2 separate regions of the Homo sapiens genome follow, and region 2 is linked to region 1. The links come from fine-mapping of genetic effects on gene expression. A gene starts in region 1. The other region holds a variant in brackets. All regions are shown on one strand. Distances are from middle to middle.

What was found. PIP is the estimated chance that this variant, and not a neighbour inherited with it, causes the effect.
Region 2: its variant is fine-mapped to the expression of VCAN in cerebellar hemisphere (GTEx, PIP 0.95).

Annotation. Positions count from the first base shown.
Region 1 is chr5:83,469,446-83,473,445 of GRCh38, reverse strand. VCAN (versican) reads right to left here and starts at 1,702. Exons shown (of 15, transcript NM_004385.5): 1 at 1,423-1,702. RefSeq lists an enhancer at 401-1,273.
Region 2 is chr5:82,622,124-82,626,653 of GRCh38, reverse strand. No RefSeq gene overlaps it. Among named protein-coding and RNA genes, the nearest start is that of MIR3977, 220 kb to the left of the region's middle. The variant C/T (reference allele first, on the strand shown) is at 1,989.

The DNA of each region.
Region 1 (4,000 bases):
ACCCAGAGAGACTCTGCCGCGGGTGTGCGCGCGGCAGGACAACTCTCCAGGCGCCGTGTAGATTTCTCCCCCTTCCCGCAGCATCTCCCAGGGACATGCAGGACTTGCCGAGACGCAGTTGGATTGGAGAGCAAATAGTTTAGGCTATGACACTATTTTTCTACCCCGCTCTCCTCTGCCTAACACCCAGACCGCTCCACGCCCAGTGACACAGACCGCGGGCCAGAACAACCCGGATGCCCTAGGTCTGCACGCACCAGGGATGTCGCCCTACAGCGCCCACGCCTCTGCAGGACGGTGGGGCGCTCCAGCCGAGGACGTCCCCCGGGGCTCCCGGCACACGCGCGCGCCGCTGCCGCTAGACCTGCCAGTAAAGTTGCTCAACTAGAGCGGAGAACTAGGAGAGGGTGGGGAATATGTAAGGAAACGGAGGACTCCTGTAGTCTGGGCGAGAGGACTGACCCAGAGGCCCCTGATTCGGGTCCCCGAGCCACCTTTGTCTGCAGTGCGCTCTGGGTGCCGGTTTGCTTGTTGAGATGGGAGCGACAGACCCTATTTCACTCTTCAGGGTGAGAAAAATTGTTGCACATCCCTGCCGATTCAGAACAGGCTTTTCCCGCCCAGGGGCCTCCCAGACCTCCGCGGGGCTCCAACAACCCCACCCCCCATCCTCTGCTCCTTCCCTGCTGGCCCCTTCGCACCGCGTGCAGGACAAAAGAACCCAGGGGCGCCGGGAGAGAACCGTGACAGTCCCCAAGTCGTCAAAGAGACACGGCGGGGATCCTGCACCTCCCCCGGCCGGACCTCCTCCCAGACTGCCTGCGGTCTGAAGGGGTCAGGTCCGCGCAAGGTCCCAGGCTGCTTGGGCGCCGGGTCGCACTGTCAGGAGCTGCCCGGGAGTGGCTTTCCAGGAACACCAGGCACTGACCACACACCAGGGGCTGGGAAACCAGGTGGCCTGCACCAAGGCGGCTTCGGGGACTTGTCTGTGGCAAGTCTTGGTAGTCCCCATTCAAACTTTTGCCTCGAGCGTGTTAAGAACAACAACAACAAAAAAATCAAAGTGCCAAAGGTCCCTCTCTTCTCTCCAGCTCAAGAACCCACCACTTTTCTATGATTTCTTTACAATTTATTCCCTCCCTTCCCCCAATTCCGTTAGTCATTTTACCCCCCACCCCACCCTGGGTTTCTTTTGTCTGAATCTTTTTCAACACCAAGGTCCCTCTGTATGCCTCTCCCCAAAAGCCCTTATGAAAGTTACCTGCATTTTTTAAGTGCCTACATTTTCTTAACTTCGCCTTACAGCTCTTTGCCTTAATTAAAGCCTTCTACCAATTGCTTCTTTTTTCTAAGCTCGCGGGTTTTTTTCTATAAGTTTTTTGTTTTTGTTTTTTAAGGGGGGAACAAAAGAAACGTGATTACCTTGGAAGGCGGCTTATTGCAGTTTGGGGGGAAAATTCACTGCAGCGCTGCGCGACTGGGTTCGGCGTTGCCCAGGCGGGTCACATAGGAAGCGTGGTGGCCCGGGGAAGGATGCGGAGGGTGCGGGACGGTGCTGGAAGATGCGGGAGGATGCGGGGCTGGCCGAAGATCTTGGTCCCAGCTCCTGTCCACAACACCTAATGTTCTCGGCTGTTGCGTCCGCACGCCTGGAGTTCTTCCCCAGAAAGGCTCGGGGCAGCTCGCCTGCAAGTTCAAATGCGGGTTGTGACACCCATCATCATTATATCACTGTACCGTCAGAGCCGAGGAGGAGACTCAGCGAGAAGAAGGAGGAGGGAGAGGAGGAGGGTTCATTCACAGGCTCCAAAAGCGCTCCGCAGCTTCAGCCACTCCTAAGAGTCCAGGCTTGGAAAGCAGGCGGAGGGGCGGAAAGGCAGCTCCCCGCGCCTGCGGTAGGGACCGCCTGCCTCCCTCCCCAGGCACTCCCACCTCTTGGCGTTTCTTCCTGACAAGAAGTACCAATCGGCTTGGGGACAGCAGCGCTCCCCATTCAGGGACTCACTCAGTAACATCGCTCTGCTCGCGGAAACCACTGCCCTCCCACTCCTTCCCCACCCCCATTTCCCCGCCCCCCGTGCAGCTAGTTCTGGGTTAGGGGAAAGGAGCCCCCAGGCTCTTAGGGGGCAGGCCAGCAATAGACAATTGAGTACGATCACTTCTTCTCGGGAGCACACAAAACTGTAAAATCAGCAAAGAACTTGGTTACAGCGTGTTTACGCGCCCACAGAGCTTGCCTGTCCCATCAAAGGGAAGTGTCAGGCTCAAGGCTCCTGCCAACCTGAAAGAGACACTGAGAAAACGAGATCCTTCGGGGACCTAGAGGGAAAGTGTAAGAATTCCCCACTGCACTCCCAGGGAACTGCCCAATGGGGAGCCCGGCTTCAAAAGACCCTGGTAATAAAAGGCTGGACAGGAAATTCCCCCAGGCAAATCCCTTGTCGGATTCAAAGAGAATACTTTTCCTCTGCCACAAATCTCTCCCCACATAAGTCTAGATTCTGCTTTCTTCGTTCTTCCTTTCCTTCAGTCTTTCCAAGTATCTCTGAGTAGAATATTTGATAATTTTCCTGAGTAACAGGGACTTCTTGGAAGTATCAATCACCTTTCATGCTTTCCGGAAATAAGACCATAATCTTTCATGCGTATATGCGATTTTTTTTCTTCAGTCAGGCCCACCCCACTGTGTAAACAGCATCAACACATGGAAGAGTCCCCTGCATTGTGTTACAAAAGATTTCCAATAGGACCTTACAGAGAAAAGGGTCAAACAGTTGACACAAAGGATTTCTGTCCCCTTAGAAAAGAGGGACTTTGGATTTTCCTTTTCTTTGAAGTCAAGTATGAGTTTATACAATAGGAACAAAATAAATCCAAGGTGCACATCAGTATAACACTAGGGATACTAGAATGGATGGCAAACTTTTCCTTCTACACAAATATGAAAGTATCCTCACAACTCTTCTCTCTGAAGCCTCTACTTAGAAAATTATATTAAACATAGGACCTCAAAACAGTAGTGATTAAAGATGAAAGCCAATTTTTCCTCTCAACTTCTTTGATTAGTTTGGTTTAAACTTATGCTTTAAAACTTTTAGTAACTTAGACTCCTGTACATGCGCATTTATAAGATTTCTTTTATATTTTGTAATTTGTAGGCATTCAGCATGGTCATTGATTTTAAGTGATAAACAGGTAGAAGACTTGTCAGGATAATTTCAGTTCTCACCATGTGCATCTTTCATTTCTTTTGTTATTTATCAGCCCTCTGCAGTAATATAACTGTCAGTTACATCATTTGGAAATCAATGTGTTTTTGCAGTGAATTATTTATTCTTAGTAAATTTATTGTACTACCATTCCAAACACTGAAATTTGATTTCATCAGATGTTTAGAATGATAGTCACAGAGCAGAATCAGACTTCAACCTTCATGTATAACATGTAAACAAACTAAGGTGCAGAAAGTTACTGTCCCAAAGTCACACAATTAATAGTCCAGTGGTCTTTTCAGTGCTAATCATAGCAACTTTAGATTCAAGATTGCTTGATTCAGGAATGGAGAGAAATAAAATAAAATGAATGTTCATTGAAATATATACTCCAGACATTAAGATAGACCTTTCTGTGAAACACTTCAAGATGTGGATTTGTATTCTCATTCTTAAATTTGAGTAAATCTAGTTGAGTTTCAAAGAGTTCAAGTAACCTGCCCAAGGCCATTTTGTAAGTGACAGATCTGCCAGTCTGAAAAGCTTATTATCTTTTACCCTTTTGTCCCTTTATGATACAGTTAAGTAAAACCTTTCAACAAAGGAGAACTAGATCAGAAACAAGCAACTAATAGCAGATTAATGCCCATTTTTAGGGAAATGTTAATAGTTAACATTCACTATAAATAATGCCATCTGTATATAATGGAACATGATTGAAAGTGATGGGTTAGATACTTTTTACATTCTGAGATGTTTTCATTTATGTTGCCAAATTTGATTCTCTA
Region 2 (4,530 bases), 850 kb after region 1:
AGAACCAAGTCCCTAGGCTGCACACAGCACAGGGATTCTAGGCCCAGACCACAAAACCATTTTATGCTCTTAGGCCTCCAGGGCTGTGATGGGAAGGGCTGCATGAAGAACCCTCTGACATGCCCTGGAGACATTTTCCCCATTGTCTTGGGGATTAACACTGGGCTCCTCATTACTTCTGCAAATATCTGCAGCCACTTTGAATTTCTCCTAAGAAGATGGGATTTTCTTTTTTATCACATTGTCAGCCTGCAAATTTTCCAAACTTTTATGCTGTCCTTCCCTTATGAAACTGAATGCCTTTAACAGCACCGAAGTCATGTCTTGAATGCTTTGCTGCTTAGAATTTTTTTTCTGCCAGATAACCTAAATCATCTCTCTCAAGTTCAAAGTTCCACAAATCTCTAGGGCAGGGGCAAAATGCTGCCAGTCTCTTTGATAAGACATAACAAGAGTCACCTTTGCTCCAGTTCCCAACAAGTTCCTCATATCCATCTGAGACCATCTGAGCCTGGATTTCATTGTCCATATCTTTATCAGCATTTTGGTCAAAGCCATTCAATAAGTCTCTAGAGAGTTCCAAATTTTCCCACATTTTCCTGTCATCTTCTGAGCCCTACAAATTGTTCCAACCTCTGTCTGTTACCCAGTTCCAAAGTCGCTTCCACATTTTTGGGTATCTTTTTAGCAGCACCCCACTCTACTGGTACCAATTTACTGTATAGTCCATTTTCATGTTGCTGATAAAGACATACCCGAGACTGGGAAGATAAAGACGTTTAATGGACTTACAGTTCCATGTGGCTGGGGAGGCCTCACAATCATGGCAGAAGGCAAGGAGGAGCAAGTCCCTTATATGGATGGTGTCAGGCAAAGAGAGAGGGCTTGTGCAGGGGAACTCCTATTTATAAAACCATCGGATCTTATGAGACTTACCCACTATCACAAGTAGCATAATAAAGACATGCCCCCATGATTAAATTACCTCCCACTGGGTCCCTCCCATGACATGTGGGAATTGTTGGAGTTACAATTCAAGATGAGATTTGGGTGGGGACACAGCCAAACCATATCACCCCTCAAATCTTAACACAATAGAGTTATATTTCTCACACATTAATTTCCTTGGCTAGTAGCCTTTCACATGATTATGTAGGGACCCAGGGTTCTTCTTCCAGGGTCTTGGAGACAGTCACATTCCACTGGTATATGGAGACAAGACTACAGAAAGATATCTCTTCATGTTTCACTGTGAAGAAACTAGACACTAGGCTCCACCTATGCCTGATATTCAGGGAAATCTAGATCCTAGGTGGACAGCAGCCTCCTAGCACCCAGCTTTACTCTATGGAAGGGGAACACAAATCTTTGTTGATGACCTAATTAGCCCTGTTACCTACTTGAAAGATATTCCAAAATATTGTTGCATGATTTAAAGGGATGCTCATACAGCCACAACCTCCTTATGTGGCAACAGAGTCATTTTGTATATAACCTGCCCATGGACCTTGCATTAATATTATTTAATCAATATGTATAATGCTTACATGGCAGTACCTATGAGTTGATTTTCCTGCATAAAACATATTCAAGTTAAGTGTCTTGTATGACCTCAAACTGCCAATTGAAGTTTCTTGGTCATGGTGTATAAGCCAACAGAAGGTGTTTGTTAATGACTGGCCTCCAGTTGCTTAATTCAGAACTGTGGCCAGTAGGCTGAGCAGATGGCTGAAGAGGTTTGGGCTACATGGGCCATGAACACAGTTGTCAGTGTGGTAGCAGGAGCTCTACAGAAAGTATCTTGATTCCTTCTAATTCTGCAAAAAACAATGAGGCAGAGGGCCCGAGGCTGATCGCCAGATTTAGGCCAAGGAACGTCAAATTATGACATGAGGAGGACCAAGAGTCCTTGAGTTTTAGTCTCCAGGGCTGCAATGACTTAACAGCAAAGTTAATTCCCCAAAATGTCAGAACTGTATATTTCTGGT[C/T]AGATGCCAAATATACACAGCTATAGGCTTGCTTAACTGCACCATCGGGATCTACAGTATTCCCTAATGTCTCTTCAAACACAGCCCTCTCCTTACATTAGGTCTTACTTCTTAAAAATTATGCTGGTTTACAGGAAAAGACTACCAAAAGGAGCCCATTCTACTTCGGTTCCTTCAATATTCCCTTAGAATATTATCTTGCCCAAACACACAGGAAGTAGAAGAATGGCCATACATCCCAGTTTCCTCACAACAGTCCTGGTTAATGCCTGTGGACCAGTATAAGTGTTAATAATACTCCCTTTCAATCTCAATGTATCTTGCTTTGCTCAGGAAACTATTATCAGTTGTGAATCCATGACTAGAACTTAGTTTGTCTGACTCATGGCATAGTGCTCTTTCCACAATATAAAGTTATTTCTAATTATAACCAAACATCAGCATTAAGGGAAGTAGGTGTGCGGTGGGCACAACACTTCCTCCCTCCTTCTAGGTTACTAGACATTTATAGAAGTGAATTAGTCAGAGTAGAATGGAGACATGATTCTGCCTTTCCAAGAATTGGGATAAAGTAAGCAAATCTGGAAGGCTGTCCCTTCTTTAACCTCAGGGTAAGCTCCAACATTCATCCTAAGTTTGAAAATTATGTCAATTCAATTCACAACTAAATTGAAAGAAAATCCAGAGGTTTTCCCCAAACTCATGAATCCACTGCTGCTATTCAACCTAGGCCATTTTCTGCAGAGCTACATAACTGCTAGCCTCACACCATTTCTATCATCTATCAAGAAGGTCCATTTGCCAGGCATGGTGGCTCACACCTCTAACCCCAGCACTTTGGGAGGCTGAGGCGGGCGGATCATGAAGTCAGGAGTTCGAGACCAGCCTGACCAACATGGTGACACCTCATCTCTACTAAAAATACAAAAATTAGCCGGGCATGGTGGTGTGCGCCTGTAATCCCACCTACTCAGGAGGCTGAGGCAGGAAAATCACTTGAACCTGGGAGGTGGAGGTTGCAGTGAGCTGAGATTGTGTCACTGCACTCCAGCCTGGGCAACAGAGAGAGATTCCATCTCAAAAAAAAAAAAAAACAAAAAAACAAGGTCCATTAGTGACACAGTTTCCTTAGTGTTCCCCCCTTAACATTTTATAAAGCCAAAGCATGGCATATATTTTCCCTAAACAGTTTGTCACAGCAGATAATTTAATGTCAATTATTAACCAGGTTGTTTGGTGCCATATGCAAGAAGGAACTCAGCTAACGATCTGAGAGCAAAGATCACAACCAGACTATAGTGATCCAGAAGCTGAACCCAGGCAGGAACAGGGCAAATAAAAGAAATGTGCTCTACCTATTAACATGTTTTCCTGTTATTTCTTTATACTTGTCGCTGCTTAAATGTCGCAGTGCTCAATTCCGATGTCCACCTGTGTACCTGTCAGGAGAAAGTGGCTCCCCAAGAAGCAGAGAGGGAGACCATCTTAAACAAGTGGCAATAAAACGCCACTTCACTCTTCCTAGCCAGGATAGGCCTCTGTCTGAAGGAAATAGCAGCTTGTGGGCCTTTTATGAAAAGTACTTTTGTTCCAGTAGTTTTTCAAGGACAAAAATGTATCTTCACACTTTTGTCATTATATTTATGAACTGTAAATCCTCATTTTATGGAAACACTCCAGGATTTCAAACTCCTAAATCAACCTGGTAAATCTCCAGCCTCAGGGGTTCAATTTAAGGAGAACCTCTTCAAAAATACTGACATTTTATAGGGAACTGCAGGAAAAACAAACAATAAGAGTTTTCAACATACATCTTTTTTTTGGTAACCCTAAAGGCTTGTCATGGGAGACAGCTAACATGTAAGAAGAATAAAGACAGCTGCTGAGAATGCATTTTCTGAGCCGCAGGTCAACATGACTTAAACAATAACAGTGAGATGGTCTCTCCAGAAATTTGGTCTGGGGCCCTGAACAAGCCACCATTGTTTCCTTAAAGGAATATTTACTTTTATATCAGGATATGGATGATGTTAGATATACAAGCAAACTTTTAAGTGTGAGAAAAATGACTCTAGAAAATCTATTTGCAATTGCAAAACACTTTATAAATATTGTAGGCTTGAGGTTTTGCCTTCACTCTTATAATATTCCCCGTTATTGGCTGGACACAGTCCTGCCATAGCGGTTGGTATCTCCATGAACTGTCTGCCAACTTCTACTACTGAGAGCATTTCAATACACCCAGTCTCACCAATGTTTAGCCAGCTGGTAGCCCACATCAGCCATCCAAATATTTCATTGTTGGATGAAATAATTCCACAGGCAACCACAGGTCCTAGGCATGTGAATTTTATGAGGGCTTATTCCACAAACTAGGGCAAAACAGAACACAGAGCAGTTTGCCCCGAGATGCTGAGTGAGACTCACTGTCAATAATTTCTACCCATTCGCAGAAAATATTTTTAAAAATTATGGTCTTCATGAAATTTTGAATTGTAGAAGTGTGAAGAAATGCTTAGGGTCCTGAAAGGCAATATAAACT